2 linked regions of the Homo sapiens genome follow. The protein of the gene in region 2 interacts with the protein of the main gene of each other region in a biochemical or structural test. Each region holds a gene or a part of one and is shown on either strand. Other genes may lie near its edges.

Region 1 (7,026 bases), on a different chromosome or scaffold from region 2:
CACACCGTAATAAAAATCATTTAAAAAAGGAAGGGAGGGAGGAATGGCAGAATGAAAGAAGGAGCTTAGGAGAGCCTCAGGCGTGCAGTGTGAGTATCCTCGTGGGTCTGGGGAGGCGCTGCTGACGAAGGAAGCACTGGTTCTCTGTAGGGGTCTGACCCCAGCATCAGCTTCAGCTCAGCTCAAAGCCAGCGGCACATTCAATCGCATAGAGAAGTTTACTTCGCAAAAGTGTCTCGTCATAGAACTCGGGGAGCTTCAGCAGGTTCATGCAGGTGCTGGCTGTGGGGAGCCGCTCAAGGTCGGAGCCTCCGTTGTGAATACAAAATGCGGGATACAACTCCTGAAAAACAGCATGTGTGCAAGATGTCACTGTAACAAGCATGGCATTACATGAGTTTTAATACAAAGTACACAAAATGTGCCTGCTCCAATCAGTAAAGTTACCATTGCAGTCACATTTTCCCGAAACCACATTTGCTTTGTTGTTGTTGTTTGTTTTCTTTGAGATGGAGTCTAGCTCTGTCGCCCAGGCTGGAGGGCAATGGCGCCATCTCAGCTCACTGCAACCTCTGCCTCCCAGGTTCAAGCGATTCTCCTGCCTCAGTCTCCCAAGTAGCTGGGATTACAGGTGCCTGCCACCATGCCTGGCTAATTTTTGGATTTTTCCTAGATAAGGGGTTTCACCACGTTGGCCAGGATGGTCTTGAACTCCTGACTTTGTGATCTGCCCACCTCTGCCTCCCAAAGTGCTGGGATTACAGGCGTGAGCCACCGTGCCTGGCCCACATTTGCTTTTTTAAAAAATTACATTGATGGCTTAGTTCTAACTTACATAAAAGATTATGCACTGTGCTTCAGGCATAAAAAGGGATAAATAACATTCCAGGCCAGGCGCATAGCTCACACCTGTAGTCCCAGCACTTTGGGAGGCCTAGCTGGGGGATGGCTTGAGCTTAGGAGTTCGAGACCAGCCTGGGCAACATAACGAGACCTCATTTCCACTAAAAATAAAAATCAAAACAATTAGCCAGGTGTGGTGGTCTGCCCCTATACTCCCAGCTACTTGGGAGGCTGAGGTGAAAAGATGTCTTGAGCCCAGGAGGTCGAGGTTAGTGAGGTATGATCACACCACTGCACTCCAGCCTGGGCAACACACAGTGAGACCCTGTCTATAAAAATTTTTTAAAAAGGATCAAGATTTATTCTATCTTTCCTGTACAAGCTATTACTCGGGTTAACCAAATCATTGGTGAGAAGAAACAAAGCTGTTTTTAAATAGAAAATTCCAGCTAATAAATTATACAATTATGTAATTAGAACACGGCTGTTTTAGAAGCACATTAAACAATGGATCTAGGCAGTGATAAGTGACCACTAAAATCAAGAGGAATTCTGACGCAGAGATCGATCCCAGCATTGTGGGGAGATGACTCACGAGAAGTGGATCTCCACGATGATTAAGGGAATGGGAAGCATACGACATTACCTATGTGATGTTATTGCCAAAAAAAGAAAAATTCAAATTTAGAATCTGATGAGACCTCTATCAGTTTTCAAGAGATACAAAGAAGCAACCCAGTTACCCTATTATTTTTATTTATTTATTTTTTTGAGACGGAGTCTTGCTCTGTCACCCAGGCTGGAGTGCAGTGGTGCAATCTCGGCTTACTGCAACATCCGCCTCCCGGGTTCACGCCATTCTCCTGCCTCAGCCTCCCGCATAGCTTGGACTACAGGCTCCCGCCACCACGCCCGGCTAATTTTTTGTATTTTTAGTAGAGACGGGGTTTCACCATGTTAGCCAGGATGATCTCGATCTCCTGACCTCGTGATCCACCCGCCTCAGCCTCCCAAAGTGCTGGGATTACAGGCGTGAGCCACCGTGCCCGGCCCCAGTTCCCCTATTCATTAAATTACAAGACGAAATTGAGGGAGGTAGAACATCTATAGACCAAATGCATGATGAAAAGTGGCTTGCTTGTGCCAGAATTTAAATAATTGTTAACAAAAAAGAAAGATGATCAGGGAAATTTGAATATTGTTTTTCAGATGTGTTCATGACGTTCTGGTATTTAAAGGTACAGTGTGAAAATTCTCATCCCTGTATCACAGATACCCAGTTCCCATTCCCACTGGCAACCAACGCTTCAGCGTCTTAAGTGCTCCCAGAGATGAAATGCACGCATGAGAAAATGTTCTCCCTCCTTTAGGTTTAAAATTGAGACGGTGAGCACATTGGACACAGTATTCCGTGCCGTGCTTTTCTCATCTGATAATGGGTCTCGCTCATCTTGCCTATTAATGGTGAGGCTATATGGTGTTCCATGCACACGCGCGGCACGACGTGTTGCTGGGCACTTCTCTCAGCTTTTTACAAAAAATGATGCAATGAATACGTACCTGGTTTTCACAGTTGTGCAAATGTATCTGTAGGCAAAAACCGTGTTAGGGATTGCTCAACGCAGACTTAATGCATGAGACCTATGGGCGTGTCGGTCCTCTGATGGCCACGAAGAACCGGTGACTCCACCTTCCTCGTATACACAAACACCATTAGCTATTTGCCTCACATTTGAGATACGTGATTTATGTGTTCTCTTCCAACAGGAAGACAATAAGGCACAGATCGCCCTCAGTCTGCTCACTGTCGCAGCCTGTGCAGATTTAGTATCTGGCACGGGTTTCAGAGACCTAGCTAGGTCAGCCCTTCCCTGCACACGTGTACACGAAACTCTCTGAGAGGTGGGCCTGGCAGCAGGAGCAGGGGCTTCACCCACATTCACAACTCCTGGGACTGTACTCTAAGAAATAATTAGAGATGCACATGATAATTTATGCACAAGAGGTTCACAGCATCACAACGAAGGAAGAGCTGTAAACAACTAAAAAACAGAAAGTAAACTGGTAAATCACATGATGGGACACTACAAGCCCATTAAAAATATCTCAAAGAATAACATGAGGAAAAATGATCCTGATGTAATGTTGAGTGAAAAAGGTAGCCTAGAAAACTGAACACAAGATACAGCTAAAATTATATTTAAAAATTACGTGACCAGGAGCAGTGGCTCATGACTGTAATCCCAGCATTTTGGGAGGCCACAACGGGTGGATCACCTGAGGTCAGGATTTCTGAGACCAGCCTGACCAACATGGCGAAACCCCATCTCTACTAAAAATAAAAAATTAGCCGGCTGTAGTGGTGCATGCCTGTAATAATTCCAATTACTCGGGAGGCTGAGGCAGGAGGCAGAGGTTGCAGGCTGCAGTGAGACGAGATCACGCATTGCACTCCAGCCTGGGCAATAAGAGTGAAACTCTGTCTTAAAAATATATATGTTTGTGTGTGTGTAACAGGCTGAGCATGTTGGCTCACACCTGTAATACCAGGTGTGTGTGTGTGTGTGTAACAGGCCGAGCATGTTGGCGCACACCTGTAGTACCAGGTGTGTGTGTGTGTGTAACAGGCCGAGCATGTTGGCTCACACCTGTAGTACCAGGTGTGTGTGTGTGTGTGTAACAGGCCGAGCATGTTGACTCACACCTGTAGTACCAGGTGTGTGTGTGTAACAGGCCGAGCATGTTGGCTCACACCTGTAATACCAGGTGTGTGTGTGTGTGTGTGTGTAACAGGCCAAGCATGTTGGCTTACACCTGTAGTACCAGGTGTGTGTGTGTGTGTGTGTAACAGGCCGAGCATGTTGGCGCACCCCTGTAATACCAGGTGTGTGTCTCTGTGCTTAACAGGCCGAACATGTTGGCTCACACCTGTAATACCAGGTGTGTGTGTGTGCACGTAACAGGCTGAGCATGTTGGCTCACACCTGTAATACCAGGTGTGTGTGTGTGTAACAGGCCGAGCATGTTGGCTCACACCTGTAGTACCAGTGCTTTGGGAGGCTGGTGTGGGAGATCACTCAAGGCCAGGAGTTTCTGACAGCCTGGGCAACAGAGCAAGACCCTACCTCTACCAAAAACAGAAAAAATTATGCATATCTACATTAACACACACTCATGTAGGTAGATAAAACACATACTAATTAAAGGAAGGAAACATAAAAAAATAATGGTTAGAATGGGAGGAAATATAGGTTTCTTATACTTGATCACAATTTCCAATTTTCTATAATGAAAACATTACTTTTACTGAAAGGTAAAAAAAAAAAAAAAAAATCCAATATAAAAAAAGTGCTTTCGGTGCCAACAGCGCTCCCACAAAGTGAATGTTCCTAATACTTGCTAGACTTTTTTTTTTTTTTTTGAGTTGGCGTCTTGCTCTCTCAACAAGGCTGGTGTACAATGGCACAATCTCGGCTCACTGCAACCTCTGCCTCCCAGGTTCAAGCAATTCTCTTGCCTCAACCTCCCGAGTAGCTGGGACTATATGTGCCCATCATCACACCTAGCTAATTTTTGTATTTTTAGTAGAGATGGGGTTTCGCCATGTTGGCCAGGCTGGTCGAGAACTCCTGAACTCAGGTGATCCGCCCGCCTCAGCCTCCCAAAGTGCGTGAGCCACCACACCCGGCCCCCGTTCGACTTTCTGTAAGTGTGGCAAGCCCACAAAGCGACACGGCACAAAAGGGCACGGATTCTCTGTATGCCCGGGAAGGTGGCGTTAGGACAGGCGCCCGGGGAAGGTGGCGTTACGACAGGTGCCTGGGAAGGTGGCGTTAGGACAGGTGCCCGGGGAAGGTGGTGTTAGGACACGAAGCATAGCGGCTACGGTGGGCAGACTAAGCTGATTTTCCGGGAAAAGGCTAGAACTACGAAGAAGCTTGTGCTGAGGCTTGAGTGCGTTGAGCATAGGTGCAGATGTAAGAGGATGCTGGATATAAAGAGATGTGAGCATTCTGAACTGGGAGGACAGAAGAGGAGGAAGGGCCAAGACATCCAATTCTAAGTGTCATCTTTTGTTTTATTATGAAGACAATACAATCTTGAGTTTATGTTCAAAAAAATTTAAAAAATAGAAAAGGTAATTACCTTCTAACCATTGTAGTCAAATGTGAATCAAACTAGAGCAATGTCCCATTCTGCAGGAACCTTTGGAAGCACTGAAGCTGTCACAAAGCACAACAGGCACCCAACTGGCCACACCCACATTTCAGTTGGATTTTGTTTCAATTATATGTTGAGTTTAGCATATAATTTATGTTAAGGGTAAAACTAGTAAGAGCACAGCCCACAAAATGCTATGAAGAGGATGGGCGCGGTGGCTCATGCCTGTAATCCCAGCACTTTGGGAGGCTGAGGTGGGTGGATCACCGGAGGTCAGGAGTTCGAGACCAGCCTGGCCAACATGGTGAAATCCTGCCTCTACTAAAAATGCAAAAAAATTAGCTGGGGGTGGTGGTAGGTGCCTGTAATCCCACCTACTCGGGAGGCTGCGGCAGGAGAATCACTTGAACCCAGGAGGCAGAGGTTGCAGCGAGCTGAGATGGGCCATTGTACTCCAGCCTGGGCAACAGGAGCGAAACTCTATCTCAAAAAAAAAAAAAAAAAAAAAAAAAAAGCCTATGAAGAGACTTACATGATTCTTATTACTGATCTTTGTAGGTCTCTTTACTGTTAAATGTAAACTTCATTAAAAAATATATATGTGGCATATAATATGTGCTAAAATCCATTGTCTTTTTTTTTCTAATTATAGTTTATTTGCTCCTTTAAATCTCTCATAAAAATGTTAGAATGAGAACCAAAGGAGAACCAGAAATAACATTTATTACACTTATTATTCAGCATTCTGAGTACATGAGGGCAATAATTTTCACAAATGCTTGAATATACTAAAAAGGAAGCATTGCATTTTTGAAACAGAAAAGGATCTCTGAATGAAGGGGTCAGTGACTGCTGGCAAAGTCACTGGATAAATGAAAAGCTTAAAATATATTTTGCAATTAAATGCCACATTTTAGTGTTTCTTTCATAACGCTAATTGAATTTCCTACTTGGAGACTTAAAAGTAAAAAAATGAAGTTCTTCACTGAAATCTGAGTCAAGGGCACCATTTTGTGCATAATTAAATACAGTACAACGGGAATTTGCATTAATTCAGAGTGAGAAAAATCATTAATTTATTATGTGGCCTGATGGTAACTTAACAATTTTCTACAGCACTTTAATGATTTTTTGTCTGTAACAATCACATTTATTAAACATATTAAACTTTAATTAGCTTTAGCAGATGTTATTCTTCTCCAATAATCTGGCACTAAGGAGTTTCATAACTTTAAAATTATGCCTGCCTGCCTTTGCTATTTATAGTACTTCAACTGAAAGACATTCTCTTCCTTTAAGTCTACATTAATTCTGCAGCCCTGGCAAATCCAGGCATACTAAGCTAACCGGAAAGCCTAAATATTAAGATGATTTTTCCAAACTGGATGTCTAACATATAACAACTTCAAAAACACTTATCATGGAAAAATCAATTAAATTTCACATATGTTAGAACATTGAGAAAAATAAAAAAAACAGTAAGACCGTCTCATGGATGCTCAAAGTGTTTTCCACGGTATAACTCAATTATGATTGTGCGGGGTCTTGACTGGGGTAGGATTTTCCCTTTTAGTCTATTTGGGATTTTTTTTTTTTTTTTTTTTTTTTTTTTTTTTTCAGACAGAGTTTTGCTCTTGTTGCCCAGGCTGGAGTGCAATGGTGCAATCTTGGTTCACTGCAACCTCCACCTTCCGGGTTCAAGCCATTCTCCTGCCTCAGCCTCCCAAGTAGCTGGGACTACAGGCATGCACCACCATGCCCGGCTGATTTTTTTTTTGTATTTAGTAGAGGCGGGGTTTCATCATGTTGGTCAGGTTCGTCTTGAACTCCTGGCCTCAGGGGATCCACCCGCCTTGGCCTCCCAAAGTGCTGGGATTACAGGTGTGAGCCACCGCACCTGGCCAGTCTATTTGGGATTTTAAAAGCTCATGTAAATCCCTCTACTTCTGTTCCCCTAAACCTACGACGCTCACGCAGCACAAGTGGCCATGCACGAACCCGGAGGCATCACGGAGGTGGAGA
Region 2 (7,026 bases):
AGCGCCCGGGGAAGCTGCCACGCTCGAGTGGCGTGTCCCTCCACAGGTTTTACACTTAGTGAAACTGGATGTTTTACACTTAGAGTCTATTTTGAGAGACGAGAGCTCTTTGTATCTTCCTGTTGCTCTTTTTGAAGAAGGTGCTTCCATGTCAGCAAAAACCATCCTCGGCCCTCCACATGACTTTATTTGACGCCCCCAGCTTCCCGACCCCGCCTCTATGTGGTCGGCAGCTTTGGTTTTTCCATCCCACACAAGCAGCGGGGGTCCTGGCCACCCCTCCGGGTGTCCATCTGTGGCAGTCTTGGTTCCCTGGAGTGGTCCCCCGGTGGGGCGGGCCTGACACCATCTCTCCTCCTGCAGATCAGCATTGTGGAGCTAGAGAAGAGCCAGCGGCAGCAGGAGCTCCTGCAGCTCAAGTCCTGTGTGCCGCCTGACGACGCCCTGTCCCTGCACCTGCGTGGGAAGGGCGCCCTGGGCCGCGAGCTGGAGCCTGACGCCAGCCGGCTGCACCTGGAGCTGGACTGCACCAAGTTCTCGCTGCCTCACTTGAGCAGCATGAGCCCGGAGCTCTCCATGAACGGCCAGGCTGCTGGCTATGAGCTCTGCGGTGTGCTGAGCCGGCCTTCGTCGAAGCAGAACACGCCCCAGTACCTGGCCTCACCCCTGGACCAGGAGGTGGTGCCCTGTACCCCTAGCCACGTCGGCCGGCCGCGCCTGGAGAAGCTGTCTGGCCTAGCCGCACCCGACTACACTAGGCTGTCCCCGGCCAAGATTGTGCTGAGGCGGCACCTGAGCCAGGACCACACGGTGCCCGGCAGGCCGGCTGCCAGTGAGCTGCATTCGAGGTGAGTGCCCTGGTGGGGCTGGGGGTCTGCAGCTGGTACCTGCCGACTCTGCCTGGTGTGCTCAGGCTGTCGGGTTCTCAGCAGGAGTGTGTTTGTTGAGGAGACTGAGGTGGGGAGGTGCTGGGCCAGGCCGCTGCCTCTGAGTGCCAGCCCACGGCCCTCGAGAGTGACTGCAGCTTCTCATTCCAGAGCTGAGCACACCAAGGAGAACGGCCTTCCCTACCAGAGCCCCAGCGTGCCTGGCAGCATGAAGCTGAGCCCTCAGGACCCGCGGCCCCTGTCCCCTGGGGCCTTGCAGCTTGCTGGAGAGAAGAGCAGTGAGAAGGTGCGGGCCGCGACCCCTGCCCCGGGCTCAGGGAGGTGCTCAGCAGAGGCGGCCTGAGCGAGTTGCTAGCAGGAGGGCTTGTCCTAGTTGACCTTGGGGCACGGTGAGGTACTGGGGCTGACCTGGAGTAGGATGTTGTGGCAGAGTTGGGGGCAACCAGTAAGGACAGGTCACAGGTGACGTTGGGCAGGTGCCATGGAGGACATGGGGTTTGTCAGGGTGTCCCTGATGCCTCTTAGTTCTCAGTGACGGACGGCAAGTGCTGGTAGAGACACAGAGCCCAGTTTGGGAGGCCGCTGCCCATGAGGACTTCCCCGGGGGCACTGGCCTGTGTGCACAGGGATGGAGAGGGAAGGACGGTGACGTTGCATGGACTTGGCAGTGATGGATGTGGGCCCTGGGAGGCTTGGTGGCCCCACGGGTGACTGCCCACCGAGCCGGGCGGGCAGGCTGGAGGGGACAGATGGGCATTGCTTTCAGACACCAGGAGCGTGCCGTCCCTCTGGAGTGTCCCAAAGCCGGTGTCCAGGAGGGCCTGACTGCGTGGGGAAGGTTGCAGGGCCTTGGCAGCGTGGGGGCCGCCTTGAGAGAGCTGTAGCAGGCCCCCGTCCTGTGGCTGTGGTCCCTGTGTCCTGGAGGGGTTTGTTGACCCACGACTGGGGGTCGGGCCTTCGTCTGCAGGGCCTGAGAGAGCGCGCCTACGGCAGCAGCGGGGAGCTCATCACCAGCCTGCCCATCAGCATCCCGCTCAGCACCGTGCAGCCCAACAAGCTCCCGGTCAGCATTCCCCTGGCCAGCGTGGTGCTGCCCAGCCGCGCCGAGAGGGCGGTGAGTGGCTCCCAGGTGGCTGTCCCCAAGGGCCACGTTGAGGCAAAACAGTCTGGGGTGCTCGAGACCTGGCTCACTTTGCGAAGTCTCACGCTGTAAAATGTCGAGCGTGAGGCAATGCAGTCAAGGTGGGCTGTCCAAAGCCGGGGCGTGTCCGGTGACCTGGGCCGTTGTTTTCGCCAGTCTTTTTCTTTTGGGTGAAAGGTACGTGTGCAAGTGGAGAGGGCCTCACACCTTCTGGGTTGAGGAGGAGCTCAGAGGCCCACCCTGGCTCCCAGCCTCACTCCTCACGAGGCCACATTGGCTGCCGTGGCCCCTGTCCTCACAGCTGCCTCTGGGTTCTCCCACCCAGCGCTGTGCATGCAGAGAATCTCGTCTTGTGTAGCATGGGCGGGATTTTCTGGGCATTGAACTATTTTTTAAAAATTGTGCGCTTCAAGTATATGCTTCAGTGGTTTTTAGCATTTATTTTTTATTTTTTATTTTTATTTTTCAGACGGAGTCTCACTCTGTCGCCCAGGCTGGAGTGCAGTGGTGCGATCTCGGCTCACTGCAAGCTCCACCTCCCGGGTTCACGCCATTCTCCTGCCTCAGCCTCCCGAGTAGCTGGGACTACAGGCGCCCGCCACCACGCCTGGCTAATTTTTTGTATTTTTAGTAGAGATGGGGTTTCACCGTGTTAGCCAGGATGGTCTTGATCTCCTGACCTAGTGATCCGCCCGCCTGGGCCTCCCAAAGTGCTGGGATTACAGGCGTGAGCCACGACGTCTGGCCTCTTTCTTTTTTTTTATTTTTCGAGATGGAGACTCATTCTGTCCCCCAGGCTGGAGTGCAATTGTGTGATCTCGGCTCACTGCAATCTCTGCCTCCCAGGTTCATGCCATTCTCCTGCCTCAGCCTCCCGAGTAGCTGGGATTACAGGTGCCCACCACCACGCCCGGTTAATCCCCGCCCCCACCAGCTGAGACGGAGTCTTGCTCTGTTGCCCAGGCTGGAGGGCAGTGGCACGATCTTGTGATCTTTACTCACTGCAGCCTCCGCCTGCTGGGTTCAAGCAGTTCTCCTGCCTCAGCCTCCCGAGTAGCTGGGATTACAGGCATGCACCACTATGCCCAGCTGATTTTTGTATTTTTAGTAGAGACAGGGTTTCACCATCTTGGCCGAGCTGGTCTCAAACTCCTGACCTCAGGTGATCTGCCCACCTCAGCCTCCGAAATTGATGGGATGACAGGCATGAGCCACCGCACCCGGCCAATTTTTGTATTTTTAATAGAGGTGGAGGTTTTGCCCTGTTGGCCAGGGTGGTCTCGAACTCCTGGCCTCAGTCGACCCACCCGCCTCGGCCTCCCACAGTGCTGGGATTCCAAGTGTCAGCCCCCGTGCCCGGCCGGTTTTTTGTACTTTTATACACCTCTGTCTAATTCAGGACATTTTCTTCACCCGGGAAAAAGCGTTGCCCGCCTCAGCAGTCACTCCCTAGTCGTCCCCCAGCCCCCGGGCCCCCGAACACGCTCATGTCTGGGCCTGTCCCTTCTCTTGGCACGTGAGGGCATTCCCTGTGTGGATGGAGTGTGCCATCTTCATCCGTGCCCAGTTGATGGACCCCGGCTTGATTCCCTGTTTTGGCGATTGTGAATCGTTCTGCTGTGAGCGCTGGGGTCCAGGTTTCTGTGTGGATGTAGGTTTGCTCTTTGGCCCATGTGGGAGTGGAGCTACTGGGTTCTGCGGTCACTCTACTGACCTTTGTTGGACTTGGAGTGTGGTGTGGGGAAGTGCAGTGGGTGGTGGCCGGCAGGTGTGTTCTCGCAAGCGCCCTCCTCACCCCACCCGACTGCTGGCATTTGTGCTGCTTGGAGAACACAGCCGCTTCCCGGTGAGGGCGGGCTGTGGGTTGCTTGGGTTGTGCCCAGTACCCCCTCCCCACAGCTGGACCCCGGGACCCCCGCCTCCTGACCTCCCTGCCTCAGGCCCGCTGCCCATTCACACGCAGGCACCGCGCACTCTCGCTGCGCCACTCGCCTGGGGCCCCGCTCAAGTTCCCCCGCTGCCCTCTTCCCACGCGGTACTGGACGGTGACCCCGGCGGCCTCCCCCAGCCAGCTGCAGGCCTCAACACTCACTGTTTCCAGCTGGGTTCTGGGTCTCCTGGGGCACCTGCTGCCCCTGACACACAGGGTTTTCTCTCTGCAGAGGAGCACCCCCAGTCCCGTGCTGCAGCCCCGTGACCCCTCGTCCACACTTGAAAAGCAGATTGGTGCTAATGCCCACGGTGCTGGGAGCAGAAGCCTTGCCCTGGCCCCCGCAGGTAACGCCCCTCCTGTGCCCTACCCTCAGGACTCTGCTGCTGCTGCTGCTCTTCAGGCAGGAGGGCTGGGTTGCTGGGAGTGGAACAGGGCTTCCTGGGGTGATCATGGGGGCTGCTGCCCCAAACCGCCACGCCTCATTACTGACACCCTTTCCTGCATCCCACGAGCTGGGATGCGGATCGGGCTCAGCTGCAGCCATCTCGGCCTCATACCTGGGTCTCCCGACACTGACACCTCCTGCTTGGGTGTATTAATTCAGCCCGTGAGGTCGGCCCCAGTGCTCTCGGGGGCTCCTGTACTCACAGCTGGGAGGCCCCTGACTCAGGATCGGCTCCACACACAGCAGTGCCCAATGGCACACGACCGTGGGCCTCCGTGCTGGTAGCGGCATGGTTTCTGGTTCCTTGAGAAGGTGCCGCCTGAGCAGTCTCTGCTGTTAGCCCAGTTTCTGCAGAGAGCCAGAGAGGATGCCACTTTGGCTTTTGTTGACACTGCAGGCCTGTCTGTTGTGGAAGCCGCAGAGACAGCATGTCAGCGGGCATGGCTGTGTGCCAGCAAAACTGTACTTAAAACAGCAGAGGACATGAGACCCCCAGGCTGGTTTGCTGGCCCCAGGTTGAGATGCGGTATGATGCGGCAGCTACTTTTTTAGGAGTAAAAAGTAAAATGTGGCCGGGCGTGGTGGCTCATGCCTGTAATCCCAGCACCTTGGGATGCCGAGGTGGGCGGATCACCTGAGGACAGGAGTTTGAGACCAGCCTGGCCAACATGGTGAAACCACCGTCTGTACTAAAAATACAAAAATTAGCCGGATGTGGTGGCAGACGCCTGTAATCCCAGCCACTCGAGAGGCTGAGGCAGGAGAATCGTTTGATCCTGGGAGGTGGAGGTTGCAGTGAGCTGAGATCGCACCACTGCACTCCCGCCTGGGCAAAAAGAGTAAAACTCCATCTCAAAAACAAAACAACAACAAAACAAGTAAAATGTACATGGCCGCTATTGAGACAGGAGGGGCTCTAGGGAGGCTGGGCAGGCTTCACGGTTGGCCACGTGAGGGCCCTGGAGAGGCCACCGAAGCCCGGGCAGTTCTGCCCTCGCAGGGCTGGGTTGTGCCCTTGGGGTGAGGTCTGCTCTGCGAGAGGCAGTGACAGTTTCAGGAGATTTTCAACTGGGTGGCAAACAGCCAACTCCAGAAGCGCCTTGCTGCGCCCCTGCACTGAGGCCTCATTGGCAGAAGCAGGGAGGCCGCCCTTTGTCCCCGGGTGGTCATGGAAGTGCACCACTCATCGTGGGCTGGGAAGCATGGCTGCGGCCTTCAAGGCGGCCATAGCTTGGAGTATCCAAGCTGAGTTGTCTTCTGAGAACAGGAGGGAGGGAGGCCACGCAGCCATGGGCTTTCCTCATGGTGTCTCTGAGATCACGGGGCCAGAGGGCAACTTACTCAGAGGAAGCCTAGCTCAGCGGGGAGCCCGCACCAGGAGGCTTCTTGGGAGGCAGCGTCTCAGCCGGGACCTGCAGGGCACAGGCAGCCCAGATGGGCGGGAGGAGGCACAGGGTCAGCCCTGAGCCTTGAGCTTGCCCACAGAGCCTTCTGGTTCCACCCCAGAGGGGCCGTTTTCAGACTCCCAACCCCTTCCCCACTTCCCCGCCTCTCCTGGAGCCCACAGAGCTCCTAGGGGGTGGTGCTCCCACAGCAAGGCTTTCTCTTTGGCCATCCTGTGTCCCCTGAGACCCCCATGTCCTTCCCGGCAGGCTTCTCCTACGCTGGCTCGGTGGCCATCAGCGGGGCCTTGGCGGGCAGCCCGGCCTCTCTCACACCTGGAGCCGAGCCGGCCACCTTGGATGAGTCCTCCAGCTCTGGGAGCCTTTTTGCCACCGTGGGGTCCCGCAGCTCCACGCCACAGCACCCCCTGCTGCTGGCACAGCCCCGGAACTCGCTTCCTGCCTCTCCCGCCCACCAGCTCTCCTCCAGTCCCCGGCTTGGTGGGGCCGCCCAGGGCCCGTTGCCCGAGGCCAGCAAGGGAGACCTGCCCTCCGATTCCGGCTTCTCAGATCCTGAGAGTGAAGCCAAGAGGAGGATTGTGTTCACCATCACCACTGGTGCGGGCAGTGCCAAGCAGTCGCCCTCCAGCAAGCACAGCCCCCTGACCGCCAGCGCCCGTGGGGACTGTGTGCCGAGCCACGGGCAGGACAGTCGCAGGCGCGGCCGGCGGAAGCGAGCATCTGCGGGGACGCCCAGCTTGAGCGCAGGCGTGTCCCCCAAGCGCCGAGCCCTGCCGTCCGTCGCTGGCCTTTTCACACAGCCTTCGGGGTCTCCCCTCAACCTCAACTCCATGGTAAGGATGGGGACCGGCAGGGCTGGGGAGCGCGGCCTGTGAAAGAAAGACCAGAGGGAGACCGGGCGCGGTGGCTCACGCCTGTAATCCCAGCATTTTGGGAGGCCGAGGCGGGTGGATCACAAGATCAGGACATCAAGACCATCCTGGCTAACACGGTGAAACCCCGTCTCTACCAAAAATACAAAAGATTAGCCGGGCGTGGTGGCGGGTGCCTGGGAGGCTGAGGCAGGAGAATGATGTGAACCCGGGAGGCGGGGCTTGCAGTGAACTGAGATCGGCCACTGCCTGGGCCACAGAGCGAGACTCCCTCTCGGGGGGACAAAAAAAAACACAAAAAAAAACAGGTGGAGGCAGGGGGCCATGACTGAGCCCGGCCATCCT

Evidence for each region. Proteins that work in one complex are often made in the same cells at the same time.
Region 1: of the proteins of DOT1L (region 2) and UBE3C, one has a biochemical effect on the other in vitro, tested with the Homo sapiens proteins (one study listed by BioGRID).

The regions. Positions count from the first base shown.
Region 1 is NC_000007.14:157,260,902-157,267,927, reverse strand, and holds part of UBE3C (ubiquitin-protein ligase E3C), read right to left. Parts: intron 344-7,026; coding exon 173-343; 3' UTR 1-172. UniProt on the Homo sapiens protein: E3 ubiquitin-protein ligase that specifically catalyzes 'Lys-29'- and 'Lys-48'-linked polyubiquitin chains.
Region 2 is NC_000019.10:2,215,918-2,222,943, forward strand, and holds part of DOT1L (histone-lysine N-methyltransferase, H3 lysine-79 specific), read left to right. Parts: intron 1-363; coding exon 364-848; intron 849-1,037; coding exon 1,038-1,173; intron 1,174-1,854; coding exon 1,855-2,001; intron 2,002-4,190; coding exon 4,191-4,305; intron 4,306-6,058; coding exon 6,059-6,642; intron 6,643-7,026. UniProt on the Homo sapiens protein: Histone methyltransferase. Methylates 'Lys-79' of histone H3. Nucleosomes are preferred as substrate compared to free histones. Binds to DNA.